2 separate regions of the Homo sapiens genome follow, and region 1 is linked to region 2. Evidence: fine-mapped expression QTL. Tissue or cell type: fetal neocortex. Region 2 holds a variant in brackets; the other region holds the start of a gene. All regions are shown on one strand. Distances are between the middles of the regions.

The links. PIP is the estimated chance that this variant, and not a neighbour inherited with it, causes the effect.
Region 1: SFXN4 starts here. The variant in region 2 is fine-mapped to the expression of SFXN4 in fetal neocortex (Walker 2019, PIP 0.95).

What each region holds. Positions count from the first base shown.
Region 1 is chr10:119,161,702-119,169,804 of GRCh38, forward strand. SFXN4 (sideroflexin 4) reads right to left here and starts at 4,013. Exons shown (of 14, transcript NM_213649.2): 1 at 3,836-4,013; 2 at 2,430-2,495; 3 at 639-713. The coding sequence starts at 3,946. PRDX3 (peroxiredoxin 3) reads right to left here. Exons shown (of 7, transcript NM_006793.5): 6 at 7,476-7,641; 7 at 6,019-6,832. The coding sequence ends at 6,779. RefSeq lists silencers at 3,464-3,650, 3,692-4,161.
Region 2 is chr10:119,141,071-119,149,173 of GRCh38, forward strand. It overlaps SFXN4 (sideroflexin 4), which reads right to left. Exons shown (of 14, transcript NM_213649.2): 12 at 6,705-6,790; 13 at 5,166-5,283; 14 at 1-249. The coding sequence ends at 172. Among named protein-coding and RNA genes, the nearest start is that of SFXN4, 21 kb to the right of the region's middle. RefSeq lists an enhancer at 1,377-1,878. The variant G/T (reference allele first, on the strand shown) is at 4,632.

The DNA of each region.
Region 1 (8,103 bases), 21 kb after region 2:
TATCCCTCAGATGAGTCCCCGAATCCGGCTTGCCTCTGGCTCAGAGCAGAGCAGGCTGTGTGCTGATGACACACCATGCCATCAGTCAAGTTACTTGCAACAGAGCCAAGCTGTCAGCCCAGGGTCCCCAGCACATTCTTAGAAAAAGTTAAATATGTGAGCTCTCCATAGGCTGTCTTGAGGAGCTGGTGTTTGTGAGCTCCAGAAAGCCCCACATACTGCAAGGTAGATAAGGAACAGTCCGTTTGAGCCTATCGGCAGGAACGCTGCCTGCAGTGGAGAATGAATTCTGACGTCAGAGCCCTGTCTGAATTCTGGGGTTTGCCACTGGGCTCCAGGAATCAGCTGCAGGGAATCCCCACAAATATCCACTGTGTAGGAGGAAACTTGCTGTCTGGTTTATGGGACAGAATTCTAACTACATTTAAAAAACTAACCCAGTTTTGCAAAGCTGGTCCTCTGGGCAGTATATAACAATGACAGCATTAATAGCCAATAGAACAGTGGCTCCCAAGGGAAGGAAAAAAGAAAGAAAAGAGACGGAGACAGAGATTAATGGCCAAATTCCACCTGACTTCAGACCATGCAGGCAGAACCATCTGAGGGCAACCAGCCAGACCTGAGCACGTGAAACATACCCTTTGGTCCGCCGAGGCAGGGCTGGAAACATCTTCATTTGTGCACAATAGTTGCCTCGAGTTTTCTATACTTTCCTAAAATCAGATATCAAGTAATCAAGTAATGATCTCAACATTGTTCAGGTTTATCCCCAGAGGTAGGAATCACCAGCTCACTCACCAGCATGCACTGGACTTCGACTGCATGCCTGATTTCAAGCCACATGGTGCCCTAGGCTCTCTATCCATTAGGATAGCCCTGAGTGCCATTCAGATTTATGCCTTCCTCTTCCTAGATGCTCCAGCAGCTGCCCCCAATGGTGCTGTCACCTCCCCCACTCTCTGATGTCAACTGTCGCACTGAATGGTTACCACCATCCCCTGGCTATACATGTCAGAAACCTAGAAGTCCTTCTCCCTCACCCACTTCCATGTCTTATCAGTTCAGTCTTATTTCCTCTCTTTTTCTTTCTTTCTTTTCTTATTGTTTTTTAAGAGACAGGGTCTCACTCTGTTGCCCAGGCTGGAGTGCAGTGGTGTGATCATAGCTCACTGCAGCCTTAAACTTCTGGGCTTAAGTGATCCTCTTGCCTCAGCCTCCCAAATAGTTGCGACTACAGGCACAACCCACTACACCTGGCTAACTTTCTATTTTTATTTGTACAGATAGGGTCTCGCTACATTGCCCAGGCTGGTCTCAAATTCTTATTCTCGAGAGATCCTCCCATCTCAGATTCTCAAAGTGCTGGGATTATAGACATGAGCCACCACAGCCAGCCTCCATTTCTTAATTTGAGAAAAAATAAATACAAAAATTACAAAGAATGGCTACACACTATAATCCCCTCACCCAGAATTAACAACTGTAAACATCTGGTTATATTTGCTTCTAATTTTATTACATTTTCTTTCTTCTTTTTTTTTTTTTAAAGATGGAGTTTCACTCTTGTCACCCAGGATGTGACCAGTTTAGCCAGTCTGTCCTCCATCACGTGGAAGATTTGTTTGATTCTCTCTGAATCCCCAGCACCTGGCCTGGGCCTGATATTACCTGTTAAACAGATGTACGCTTTTCTTTTCTTTTTTTGCTGGGGGAAGGGGATGGAGTTTCGCTCGTCACGCAGGCTGGAGTGCAGTGGCAAGATCTCGGCTCACTGCAACCTCCACCTCCTGGGTTCAGAAAGTGATTCGCCCACCTCAAGCCTTCCGAATAGCTGGGATTACAGGTGTCTGCCACCACACCCAGCTAATGTTTGTATTTTTAGTAGAGACGTCGGTTTCACCATGTTGGTCAGGCTGGTCTCGAATTCCTGACCTCAGGTGATCCACCCACCTCGGCCTCCCAAAGTGCTGGGATTAAAGGCATGAGCCACGGCACACGGTCAGATGTACGCTTTTCCTTACCCCTTCCAATCTGACAAGCTCATTTAGAAGGAATAAACACAATAATATATGTAGATTCTGTTATTTCAACTGCTTTTAAAAGGGACACGTGGGCAGGGCCTGAGGTCGGGAGTTCAAGACCAGCCTGACCAACATGGAGAAACCCCCGTCTCTACTAAAAATACAAAATTAGCCGGGCATGGTGGCGCATGCCTGCAATCCCAGCTACTCGGAAGGCTGAGGCAGGAGAATCGCTTGAACCTGGGAGGTAGAGGTTCTTGTGAGCCGAGATGGTGCCACTGCACTCCATCCTGGGCAAGAAGAACGAAACTCCGTCTCAAAAAAAAAAAAAAAAAAAAAAAAGGGACACACAGACTTCAAGTTTCAAAATAAAATGTGAAATTCATTAGCTCTGAAAACAATACTTACAACTGAAATGAACACATTTGTAGGATCTAATAATTCTGTCCATTGAAGAAATCGTCGAATAAAGGACTTAGGAGGGAGAAAAGCAACAGAGAGGTTAATGGCAGCAGAAAAATAAAGATATAAATACTAACAGTTGGCTTTTTTTTTTTTTTTCTGAGAACCTGCCAGGGTCTGTGATCTGCCTTTTACTGGCATCATCTCCTGGGATCCTCCCAACCTCTCCAGGTTCTCCAGGTGAGGAAGCTGAGGCTTAGAGGGACTCCTGAATGTACTCAAGGCAACACAGCCAGGAAATGATTCAGAAGTCTGTGCCCTTAACCTCTCAGTATCAAATTGCCCTTGAGGGTTAAAATCCCAGACTTTGGGGGTTCAAATGGTCTTACGTTCATATCTCACATACGACCTCGAAGCAATGGCCTAGAATATCTCAAGAGTCTGTGGCCTCACTCTCTGCTTGCTATAAGGCTTCACTCCAGTGACAAAGGATGGACGCCCCATTAAGGGCTCAATGGTGCAGCTGGGGTCACACTGGGGAAAAAGAGGTTTGCTCCAGCAAACTCTAAACTTTGTAGTGGTTCTGGCTTTAAGCCTTGGCTCTGCTGGAGCAACCTGAGCTCACCGCCCCTTCTCAATTTCCCCACCTAAAAAAAAAACAGGGCTGGACCCCACTTTAGGAGAGGCCTCAAAGAGAACCCCCTAAAGCCCTGCTCTCCAATTCGCCACATGCGGCTGAACCCAGATGTGCTGTGAAGGTAACAGACGCCGGATTTGGAACACTCTGTACCAAAAAAGCGAGTAAAATATCTCAGCAATGTTTTTTACTGATTACATGTTGAAATGTTAATATTTTGCACCTGCTAGGCTAAATGTACTGTATTGTTAAAAATTTCAGCTGTTTTTATCTTGTTTAATGTGGCTACTAGAAAATGTTTAATTACCTGTAAGGCTCACATCATATTTCTATTGGACGGTGCTGCCCTAGACGCTGCAGGGAGATAAGTCCTGCTTATGTCCTGCCCAAGGGTGGCTTCCCAAAGCCTCGGGGGTCTCACCGAAAGTGGCTGAGCTTACCAAGGTGCGAGAGCCTGTTTCTCCCCAATCTGCTGCTCAGCCACAGCTCAGGCAGTAGGGAGCAGCCACCTGCGCGGACTGGGCCCCTCCGAGAGGGCAATCTGGAGGGTGACGTTGTGGTCGTGGGCATCTGGCAGCTTCGATTTCCCCTGCGTCCCCTGCCGCGCCCTAAGGGGTGAAGGCCGGTGGTGCGCGTTCCCGGCACAACTCCGAGAGGAGGAAACGGAGACAGGGGGCGCCCACGTGGCCTGGCCAAGGTCACCCGGGTCAGCCCGACTCCACGCGGCCCGGCCCGCCCCCTCCCTGCCCCTAGTCGCGCCGGGCCCGGGCCGTACTTGGCGCTCGGTGATCCAGAAGCGCACGTTGGGCTCAATGAAGGCGGGGACGGCGTCTCTGCGTCCTAGGAGCCGCCCAGGTTGCGTTTCCTCCTCCTGTTCCAGGGACATTTTGCGCTGGTTAGAGTGGCCGCCGCCGCCAGGCCGCGCGTGGAGGAGGAGCCGGGCGGCGAGCCCCGCCCCGGGCCGCGCGCACCCGCAGTTCCCGCCCCAGGCCCGCGCGCCCGACGTCCCGTGTCACAGCGCCTCGGGGCCCTTGCGCGCCCACTGTTCCGGCGAGCGCAGCTCTCCCACGGGCCACGTCCTCCCAACCCTGCTTGCCCTGCTCCGCACCTTTGGGGAGCCGGGCCGTCTCCAGGCCCCAAGGGGTCACTATCGGAACCCGTCATCACAGTACCTAATGCGAAGACCCGGAAAGGTTGTGAGTGAGGCCGTCCGCAACCTCACCCTGCGCTTCTGCCGCGCCCTACCCCTGGTCATTACCCTCGAAAATCCCTCCGATGGCCCACGAATTCCAGTGTGCATGGTGTTGCGCAGTCAGGCCGGCTGCATCATGGTCTCAGCCCAGGGAAAATGTCAAATGCGGTGCCCCTTATTCATGTTACTGAGAATTTCAAGAGAGTAACACCAGAGCATCAAACCAAGTATAGGGCCCTGGGCACAGTGCACTATCCCTCAGCCCAACAGGTTGTTTTTTTTTTTCTTCCAGTGTTGGGGCAAATCCAGTTCCTTTTGTTGACTACCAAATAGGTACCATTTGTAAAGAAAAACCTGCCTTCCCTTCCTCCTCCCACCTGCCCTTCCCCAGCACAGGGCCAGGCGGGGGCTGTGTGCACTTAAATTCACGGAAGCCACAAGTGTGCCTAGGTCGTTCAGGGGGCCTCCGGAGTCCAGGACTGGGGGACCCAGCACATCATCTAGTTGTGTGACCCTCGCCAAGTCAGTATCTCGAAGTCTATTTTCCCATCCGCAAAATGAGGATAACAATTGTACCTATCTCAGGGTTTTGTTTCTGATCAAAGGAGATAAAACATCCCTAACACAGCACTGAGCCCTCAGAAGTGCTCAGTATTGGCCATTAACCTCCAGCGGGCCAATTCCTTCCCTTGCCCTGCGCCTCCAGGAACAGGAAATTGGCTCATGGCGTCCTTCAGGCCTGTATGACTCTGCTTCTGTATTTGCTCAGTTTGCCTAGCTCACTTTTCTTAACCTCCAGGGGTTTATCTCCTCTTCCAGGAAGCCTTCCCTGACCCTCCGAGTTGAGTAAGGTGCCCCCTCCACTTCTACCCTTATGCCGCAGAAATCCATCTAAGCACCAGTGCAGTATGTAGCGTGCTGTTCTATTCTGTTGTCTCTACCCTCCAGGATGTCACAAAGCCAGCCCGCTGGCCTGCTTCCCCACTTTGGACTGCTATGTCGTCTTAACAAAGGAGCCAGAGTGATTCTCTTAGAACAAGTTGATGTCACTCTTCTTTTCAAATCCTTCCTGACATTCCCCACCCCAGAACAGAACCTAAAGTCCTTGGCCTGGCCAAAAGGCACTCTGGGACCCCCACCACAGCCATAGTCACCGGCCTCCTAGTAAATCTGCATCCGCTCTGAGCCCACTCTTGCCTCACGGCCTTTGTGTTTTCCCTGCCCTCTGCCTAGAAGTCTCTTATCCCCGTAATACTCTCACTTTCTACGCGTTTTCTCTCCCTCGATGCTCATCAAAACCCTGAGATAAGTACAATTATTGTCCTCATTTTACAATGAGAAAATTGATCCAGAGAGGCTCTCCCTTAAGGCCTTCCTTGACAACCCCATCTAGAACACCTACAACTCCGCTTCAGCAGTTTCACTCCACATTATTTTCCTTCCAAACACTCTACTTTTACTACATGTATGAGGTGTTTCCCCTCTAGAATGTAAGAGCTTAAAAGCAGGGGTTTGTCCGTTGTTCGCTCTTGTGCCTGGAAAACAGCACCTGGTGCGGGGTAGGCACTCAAGGATTTACTGAAACAACGAGAAAATGTTTCCCTATCTGTCTTGCCCCTAAACCGAGTTCCTTGAGTGCGGAACCAGCATCTTATTCTCTTTGTGGCCCCTGAGGTAAATGCTCAATAAATGTTTGTTGATAATCTGAGAAGGAAAGGAGAGCCCAAAATAAGCTGATCCAACAGTTACTGGTGGTAAAATGCAAATGTTTTAAAATATGTTTATTTTGTATGTTTTACAATGAATACTTCAGCAAAGAAAATAATTATAATTTCAAAATGCAATCCCTGGATTTGATAAATATCCTTTATAATCGATTACACTAATCAATATCTAGAAATATACATAGACAAAGTTAGCTAATGAATAAAATAAGTAAAATGACTACATAAACTCAATTTCAGGGATGAGGGATCATGCATGATCAGTTAAGTCACTCTGCCACTTTTTAAAATAATACGATTCACATTTGCTTCAATCACATAAACATTCATTGCAGGAGTTACACGGCTAATCATTGAAAATTATGATCTTTGTTAGCTTAAAAGAAAATTCAGTTTAATACAAAGACATTCAAGATGAAAATTTCAGGACCGTTGATCAGAAGCTTTCAATGTGTGTTGCTCTACTTTATTATAGGCAAGATTCAAGTAAGGCTAAGAAAGAAGAGTGTTTCCATTGAGACATGATCTAAGAATAGCCTTCTATAGAGGCAAATTATGTTCTGTAGAAACTAGCTAGCCAGCCACCAAGATGTTACCAATAAAGGATTCCTTGTACTAGCAACTAACCATGTTTAAAAGGTCTTAGCCAGAATTACAAAAACAAAACATTTAGAGTAATACTTATGAATACAAGCATAATTGGTTCCTTGCCTTCTACAAATAACCATCTTGAAAATGATAAAAGCAGGTTTCAACTGTGGTTCTTCTCTCAGTTGAGAAGGTGCAGATACACATGGGTGATCTACTGATTTACCTTCTGAAAGTACTCTTTGGAAGCAGCTGGACTTGGCTTGATCTGAAAATACAAAAGCTTAATTAGGTAACTGTGACTTTACCATAATAATAGTCCCAAAAGTGAGTGGCAATCTCCCAATTTTTAACCTAAAGTTCTTTAAACTTTTAAAGATTTCCTTTAAAACATAAAGATGAAAGTTTCATTAAGGCCTGCCTGTCTCTAGGCCGGGCACGGTGGCTCACGCCGGTAATCCCAGCACTTTGGGAGGCCAAGGCGGGTGGATCACGAGGTCAGGAGATCCAGACCATCCTGGCTAACACGGTGAAACCCCGTCTCTACTAAAATTCAAAAAATTAGCCGTGGTGGTGGGCGCCCTGTAGTCCCAGCTACTCAGGAGGCTGAGGCAGGACAATGGCGTGAACCCAGGAGGCGGAGCTTGCAGTGAGCTGAGAGAGCGCCACTGCACTCCAGCCTGGGCGAGAGCAAGACTCCGTCTCAAAAAAAAAAAAAAAGGCCTGCCTGTCTCTGATAATTGGTTCCTGGCTCCCCACCCCACCCCCTCTACCCCACAGCAGCTTCACCCATTTGCATATCATCTGCACGCTTGCTTCAAGAGTGGGCTCCCTTTTGTGGATATTTCAGGTCAATAGCTCTCGAGGCTGAGAGAACATGGACCTCACTGCTTTTGGGGAAAAAAACCTACCGTAGGAGAATCCGGTGTCCAGTTCGCTGGGCAGACTTCTCCATGTGTTTCTACATACTGGAACGCCTTCACCAAGCGGAGGGTTTCTTCCACGCTTCGGCCCACTGGGAGATCGTTGACGCTCAAATGCTTGATGACTCCATTGGGGTCAATTATGAAGAGACCTCTGCATGATCATTTATCCTCATCAGTGCCTCAACAGTACCAGAACTAGAACAGTCTAACTTCTTCCCTTTTAGGTCTTTAATTCTCCTTTTAATAAAATATTTATTAAGCGTAATCATATGCTTAAAGGTGGGGTTTTCACTGTTGTGCAAAAAACTTATCATCTCTTACTGATGACAGATGCTTTAACAAAGGCAGTACTGGACCAGGTCACCATAAAACATGCAGTATGGTCACACTTACAAGTTCACATAGTGCCCTGAATGTTACACAGTATCGGAAAGTCACTGAACTAGAGAGAGCAAAGACTATTAGTGACTTGGCAAGCATTCTTTGAGCTGCTGTATCACATCTTGGCAAGAAACTTATAGGCAAATGGGAAGAGACAGAGGTGTATTTTATCTAGGTTCAACAACTGTTTATTATGAATGAATTATTGGGTAAATGGGGGGAAATCCCACGG
Region 2 (8,103 bases):
AACCCCAGAGACGCCAGCCTGGGAACGATCTCAGTATGGAATCTGAAGTCGCCTTGTCAGCACAGACACCTCTGGGGTCCCCAGAAGACCTGTGGCAAAGTTCTCTAAACCGAACCTGGAGAGGGGAAGGTTTTCAAGCAGGAACCACATAAATTCACCTAAAACTCACGCCTACACCCCTCTGTGATAAAAGATTTCTGTTTCTTCTGTTGGAGACTGAATTTTCTCTTCAAGACTACAGTACTGTATCTGAAAAATAGTTAAATTCATAATGTTTCTATTAATAGTTTTTCTTGCCTTAGAAGCCAAGTTAAAAAAATCATTTTCTGAAAGCAACCATTTCACAGTCCATCTTTTTCAATAATGTCTAATCTATAGCAGAAAATGTAACCTATTTTTTTTTTTAATCACCCAAGCAGTAAAGAAACTTCTTAAACTTTTTTTTTTTTTTTTTTTTTGAGACAGAGTCTTGCTCTGTTGCGCAGGCTGGAGTGCAGTGGCACCATCTCAGGTCACTGCAACCTCCACCCTCCAAGTTCAAGTCATTCTCATGCCTCAGCCACCCGAGTAGCTGGGATTGGGATTACAGGCGCGCACCACCATCCTTGGCCCATTATTGTTATTTACTTATCTCTACATTTGTTTATAATTGAAAGTTTCCATTAAAAAGTTTTAAGATGGCTGGGCACAATGGCTCATGCCTGTAATCCCAACACTTAGGGAGGCTGAGGCAGGTAGATCACTTGAGGCCAGGAGTTCAAGACTAGCCCGGCTAACATGGTACAAAAAATACAAAAATTAGCTGGGTGTGGTGGCACACACCTGTAATCCCAGCTACTCCAGTGGCTGAGGCACGAGAATCACTTGAACCTGGGAGGTGGAGGTTACAGTGAGCCGAGATCAGGAGGATTGCTTGAGGTGGGGAGTTTGCAATCAGCCTGGGCAATATAGTGGGACCCTATCTCTACAAAAAATAAAAAATTAGCCAGGTGTGGTAGTACGTTCCTGTAGTCCCAGCTACTTGGGGGGCTGAGGTCAGAGGATCACTTGAGCCTGGGAGTCAAGGCTGCAGTAAGCCATGATCATACCACTGCCCTCCAGCCTGGGCAACAGAGTGAGAAACCCTGTCTCAAACACACAAACAAACAAAAAACAAATGTAGAAGGAATGTAATGAACTCACATGTGCTCACTCAGGAATCACTATTAACAATTTGCAGATCTCATTTCATCAAGCACCTCCCACACCCAGCAGTAGGATTTTTTTCCTTGAGTATTTTAAGGCAATTCTCATGTCATGTCACCTACAAGTTCCAAATGATAAAGACCTTATCATTATTGATATAGTACTTGATATAGTAATGACAGTAGTTACAAAACTACTATGTCATTGTCACACCTAACAAAATTAGTAATAACTCCTTATCTCATCTAAGCACCTCCATGCCCTCCTTGAGCCAACAGGATATTTTGTGTCTTTTTTTTTTTTTTTTTTAAATGAGATGGAGTCTCACTCTGTCACCCAGGCTGGAGTGCAGTGGCGCGACCTCGGCTCACTGCAAGCTCCGCCTCTGGGGTTCACGCCATTCTCCTGCCTCAACCTCCCGAGTAGCTGGGACTACAGGCACCCGCCACCACGTCCAGCTAATGTTTTGAATTTTTTTTTTTTTTTTTTTTTTTGATATGGAGTCTTGCTCTGTCGCCCAGACTGGAGTGCAGTGGCGCGATCTCGGCTCACCGCAAGCTCTGCCTCCAGGGTTCACACCATTCTCCTGCCTCAGCCTCTCGAGTAGCTGGGATTACAGGCGCCTGCCACCATGCCTGGCTAATTTTTTTGTATTTTTAGTAGAGACGGGGTTTCACTGTGTTAGCCAGGATGGTCTCAATCTCCTGACCTCGTGATCCGCCCGCCTCGGCCTCCCAAAGTGCTGGGATTACAGGCATGAGCCACCACGCCCGGCCCCAACAGGATATTTCCAAAGTCCAGCAAGCAAGTCTTGGCATCTGAGGTCACGCGTGAGACTGACTCCCTTTCCTGCCTCCACTCTGGCCTCTGGGAGTTCTGCCCCTTCCAACCTTGCATGACTTACCTGCTGCCCTGCTCCTTGGCCTGGCTGTGCAGGCCCTGCCACCTGGCCCCCAGCATCCTGCCTGTTCCTTGCAGCCTCACGTGCCCATTCAGCCCTTCCCATCCTCCACTGGGGATGAACTCTTCCCTCTCCCTCCTGGGCTCAAGTGATCCTCTCACCACAGCCTTCTGAGTAGCTGGGACTGCAGGTGTGTGCCGCTTCACCCTACTAATTTTTTTTTTTTCGAGACAGGGTCTCACTCTGTGACCCCATTGTAGCCTTGACCTCCCATGCTCAGGTGATCTTCCTACCTCAGCTGCCTGAGTAGCTAGGACTACAGGCACATACCACCATGCCTGGCTAATTATTATTTTTTCTTTTTAAACAATTTTTTTCAGAAGAGAGATGAGGTTCAGACTGGTCTCGAACCCTGAGCTCAAGTGATCCTCCCACCTCGGCCTCCCAAAGTGCTGGGATTACAGGCATGACCCACTGTGCCCAGCCAAATTTTTATTTTTAGCAGAGACGAGGTCTTGCTATGTTGTCCTGGCTGGTCTTGAACGCCGGGGCTCAAGTGATCCTCCCACTTGGGCTTCCCAGAGTGCTGGGATTACAGGCATGAGCCACAGCACCCGACCTAATTTTTAGAACATTTTATGTAGAGACGAGGTCTCACTACATTCCCCAGGCTGGTCTGGAACTCCTGGCCTCAAGCAATCTTCCCACGTTGGTCTCCCAAAGTGTTGGAATTACAGACATGAGCCACCGTGCCTGGCCTGAAATTTTATTCTGAGATGCTGCCTCGCTCCCCAACCCCTCGCCCATAGCATAGTAATAGGCATAACTATCTAAAATAATCTGAAACTTCTACGTTGTGCTGGCAAAGTTGCTTGAATGAATGATCCTACAACCTAAACCTATAAAACGTGGGTTCTGAACAAGATCATTCCATAAATATAAATGCTTTTGAGGACATATATATTTATAGTGACAGAAATGAACATTTGAAATGTTTAGCCAAGAAACTGCTAGTATCAGCCGGGCGTGGTGGCTCACGCCTGTAATACCAGCACTTTGGGAGGCCGAGGCGGGCGGATCACGAGGTCAGGAGATCGAGACCATCCTGGCTAACATGGTGAAACCCCATTTCTACTAAAAAATACAAAAAATTAGCTGGGTGTGGTGGCGGGCGCCTGTAGTCCCAGCTACTCAGGAGGCTGAGGCAGGAGAATGGCATGAACCCGAGAGGTGGAGCTTGCAGTGAGCCGAGATTGCGCCACTGCACTCCAGCCTGGGTGACAGAACGAGACTCCGTCTCAAAAAAAAAAAATTGCTAATATCTGCTAGCATCAGTAATGTCTTTGACATCTGCTAGCAATTTATGGCAGAGCTTTGGAAATTAAAAAAATTGGCTTTCTGACTTAAAAAAAAAAAAATGTCCTTGCTACCTACTAAGCAACAACCCTTTGCAGAGATGCCATTATCTTCAGCTCTCTTTAACAGATAAGAAAACTAAGCAAGTTGACCAAGGTCATGGAGAAGCTGGAATCTGAGTCCAAGCAGCCTGACTCATCATAAATTATATTATAAATTATCTATAGAACTGGGCTGTCCAATAGCCACTAAGCACACAAGAGTACCTAATTTAAAATTTAACTTAATTTACAATTCAGTTCCCTAGTCACACCAGCCTCTCCTGAAGTGCTCAGTAGCACACGTAGCTCATGGCTACCATAATTGGACAGCACCAATCTATTATAGAACATTTCCATCACTGCAGAAAGTTCCACTGGAGAGGGCGTAGTTATAGAACATTTTGGAGTATTTAAAATTTCTCTAAGTAATTTTAAAAGATTTCTTTTTATGCCCCAGAAAAAAAGGCTTATGAAATATTGTTAAGAAAAACAGAACCCAAAACTGCACCAAGAGATTTGAGGGATAGAATTAAATATAAATATCATTACAATTAACCCTTGAATAATGCAGGTTTGAACAATGCAGGTCCACTTATATACTGTTTCCCCCTCAGTCACCCCTGAGACAGCAAGACCAATCCCTCTTCCTCCTCCGCAGCCTACTCAATATGAAGATGACGAGGATGAAGACTTTGATCCTCACTGAAACTGATGACTCACCTTCACTTAATAAACAGTAAATATATTTTTTCTTATGATTTTTTTTTTTTTTTTTTTTGAGACAGAGTCTCACTCTGTCACCCAGGCTGGAGTACAATGTCATGATCTTGGCTCATTGCAACCTCTACCTCCCCAGGTTCAAGCGATTCTCCTGCCTCAGCCTCCCGAGTAGCTGAGATTACAGCTACCGTGGCTAATTTTTGTATTTTTAGTAGAGCTGGAGTTTTGCCACGTTGGCCAAGCTGCTCTTGAATTCCTGATCTCAAGTTATCTGCCCGCCTCAGCGTCCCAAAGTGCTGAGATTACAGGCATGAGCCACCGCGCCTGGCCTGATTTTCTTAATAACGTTCTATTTTCTCTAGTTTATTGTAGGAATACAGTATACAACACATATAAAATATAAAATATGTGTTACTTGACTTTTTATG[G/T]TATTGGTAAGCCTTCCGGTCAACAGTAAGCTATTAATGGTTAAGTTTTCAGGGAGTCAAAGGTTATACTTGGATTTTTGACTACTAACCCCCAGGTTGTTCAAAAGCCAATTGTATTTTGTTTTATTATTTTATTTTTTTGAAATAGGGTCTCACTCTCAGCCAGGCTGGAGTGCAGTGGTGCAATCATGGCTCACTGCAGCCTCAATCTCCTGGGCCCAGGTGATCCTCCCACCTCAGTCTCCTGCGCAGCTGGGACAACAGGTGTGCATCATCACACCCAGCTAATTTGTGTATTATTTTTTGTAGAGATGGGGTCTCACTATGTTGCCTAGGCAGGTCTTGAACTCCTGGGCTCAAGCAATCTTCCCACCTTGGCCTCCCAAAGTGCTGGGATTACAGGTGTGAGCCACTGCACCTGGTCTTATTTTATATTTTTATAAACTTTGCAGAGTTTTAAGAAGAATAACTTATTTTATTCTTCTAACTGCAAAATAAAAAACTTTGAGAGAAAAGAGGAATGGGGGCACTTACCTGTCCAATCTGTGGAAATATACTAAAAGAAAATGGCACCATCAGTCCCATTGCCAGGACAGTACAAGACAGTTTCAAAATCCACAATGACCCTGGGTTTTTCCTGAAATACTGGGTCCTGTAAGAGACAAGGCATGGCTCACAAGTGATGTTAAACTATCAGGGCTTATTTTCTGAACAGCTGAATCAGGGCGTGTGTGTGTGTGTGTGTGTGTGTGTGTGTGTGCACGTGTGTGTGTACCTGAACACCTGGATCAGGGCCTGTTCTTTTTTCTTTTTGTTGTACCTGAACAGCTAGATCAAGGCCTGTTTTTTTGTTGTTTTTGTTTGTTTGTTTTGTGTTTTTTTCTTTTGAGAGAATCTTCCTCTGTCGCCCAGGCTGGAGTGTAATGGTGCCATCTTGGTTCACTGCAATCTCCGCCTCCTGGGTTCAAGCAATTCTCCTGCCTCAGCCTCCCGAGTAGCTGGGATTATAGGCGCCCGCCACCACGCCTTGCTAATTTTTGTATTTTCAGTAGAGACGGGGTTCACCATGTTGGCCAGGATGGTCTAGAACTCCTGACCTCAGGTGATCTGCCCACCTTGGCCTCCCAAAGTGCTGGGATTACAGGCGTGAGCCACCGCACCATCCCATCCCTCCTTCTTGGAAATGTGCTCCATGTGTGGTCCTAGCAGGCGATTCCCAGCCTCGCCACACTGGTGGGGGGGATGTGCACCCCAGGCATGCGACCTAACTCAGGCCCACAGAATCCTTCCCCAGGAGTCTGCCCTGAGGGGAAGACATTCCTGCCTCCCCTGGGGTTTGCTGTGTTCCACCTCTGATCAGGAGGCTGTGAGGCTATGAGCTGGGAGTTACTAGCAAGTGGGTCCCGCATCAATATGAAGAAGCCAATCTGGCAGGAGAGAAGGACTCGACACCCACGAGAATGACAGGGAGGCGCGCCCAGCAGGGGAGCTTCTGTTCAAGCTGCCATGGACTGCAATCCTTGCCCGTTCCGGCCCTAAAGCCCCAACGTCTCCCCTCGGGTCTGAGCTCCTGCAGGTTAGGTTTCTCATACTGGTGGCCACAGGAACCCTGATGGATGCCCAGGTCCTCCGCCTCGTAGGCCATTTCTGGCTTCTTAAAAGGGATGGATCTGAATTCGGAGTCGCTGAAGCTCATTTAAAACATACTTGGAATGGGGGTTTAGAGAGGAGGGCTTGAGCAATATTCACAGCACATGAGAGCCAGGGGAACCTGCAAATCATCCAAGCCCCTCATTCTAGAGGTGAGGAAATGGCCGTGGAAGGTCCTTCGACACGCCAAGGACACGGGGTAACTGGAGGCAGAGCCTGGGCTGGATTCCCCATTCGGTGGAATCCGTACACCCGGATTTCCACGCCTGCCACAATCAATCCGCCTGTCTTAGCTGTGATGTGTGTTTATGGGAAGGTTACTGAGCCAACTTCTCCCCACCCTCCACCAGGGTCAGTATCTGACAGGTTTTATAAGGATTTGACTTTCAAATCCCTACCTGGGGATATGACCGTGTCTCTTACCTTTTAAAAAAGTAGGTGAAGACTTCAGGAATCAGAGCTGAGGTCCCAAACAGCACTATTCTGGATGCTAGCGTTTCTCTAACAGCCTAGCAAAAATGAAAAGAAAACAGCTTAGGTTGGGCACGGTGGCTCACGCCTGTAATCCCTGCACTTTGGGAGGCCGAGGCGGGTAGATCGCTTGAGGTCAGTAGTTTGAGACCAGCCTGGCCAACATGGTGAAACCCTGTCTCTACCAAAAAATACAAAAATTAGCCCGGTGTGGTGTTATGCACCTGTAGTACCAGCTACTTAGGAGACTGAGAAATGAGAATCACTTGAACCTGAGAGGCGGATTTTGCAGTGAGCCAAGATCACGCCACTGCACTCCAGATTGGGCGACGGAGTGAAACTCTGTCTCAAAAAAGAAACTTAGTACAGGAGCAAGACGATTTCCAGGGATCCCACAACTCCTGCGAGAGACAGGCAACAGTAACCCACCCTTCTCACTTAGAAAAAGAATGCCCGTGGAGAGAGGCGGAGGGGACGCCTTCCACGTAACTTTCCATGTACAGGTGTGTGGCGGTCGGCTGCACTTTGTGCCAGAAATAGCTGGCACCGTCTGCCAAACCACCCCAAATAAACTATCCACTAAGTACAAGCAAAGGTGGCTTCTAGACAGATCTTCACTGAGAACCAAATGGTTCCTCAGTGGAAATGCTGGATTTGCCACAGAGGTTTGCTCCGTATTTCCCATCCAAGCCAAGTCTCTGCCACTGGCCTCCTGTCCTGACCTGGCTCAGCAGTGACTCTCATACCTGCCATTGGGGAAGCCTCCAAATGCCCAGCTCTGAGGGCACGGGCACAGCATGAGACCCACACAAGGCTGCCTGTCCGTACCCACGTTTCACAGCGAATTAAAAGTGTTATACTATAAAATTGTGTTATGTACAGGTTATAACATTTTTGTAATCTTTTCTATAATGTACATTACTCTATACATTAAACATTTAAACATACAATTTACTGTATGGGTGAGTATGTACAAAACCATGTACCCTCAAGGGCACTTTAAGGGACTTGTAAGGGAAATTTTGACTATAAGACAGCTCACGTTAACTTTTTTACTACTTTCATTTATTTATTTATTTTTAGAGACAGGGTCTCACTCTGTCATCCAGGCTGGAGTACAGTAGCGTGATCACGGCTCACTGCAGTGTTGACCTCCCAGGCTCAAGTGATCCTCCTACCTTAGCCTCCCGAGTAGCCAGGATCACAGGTACACCCTACCAGGCCCGGCTAACTTTTCGATTTTTTGTAGAGATGTGATCTCACTATGTTGCCCAAGCTGGTCCCGACTTCCTGGCCTCACGCAATCCTCCTACCCCAGCCTCCTGAGTAGCTAACATGTTAACTTTAGAAC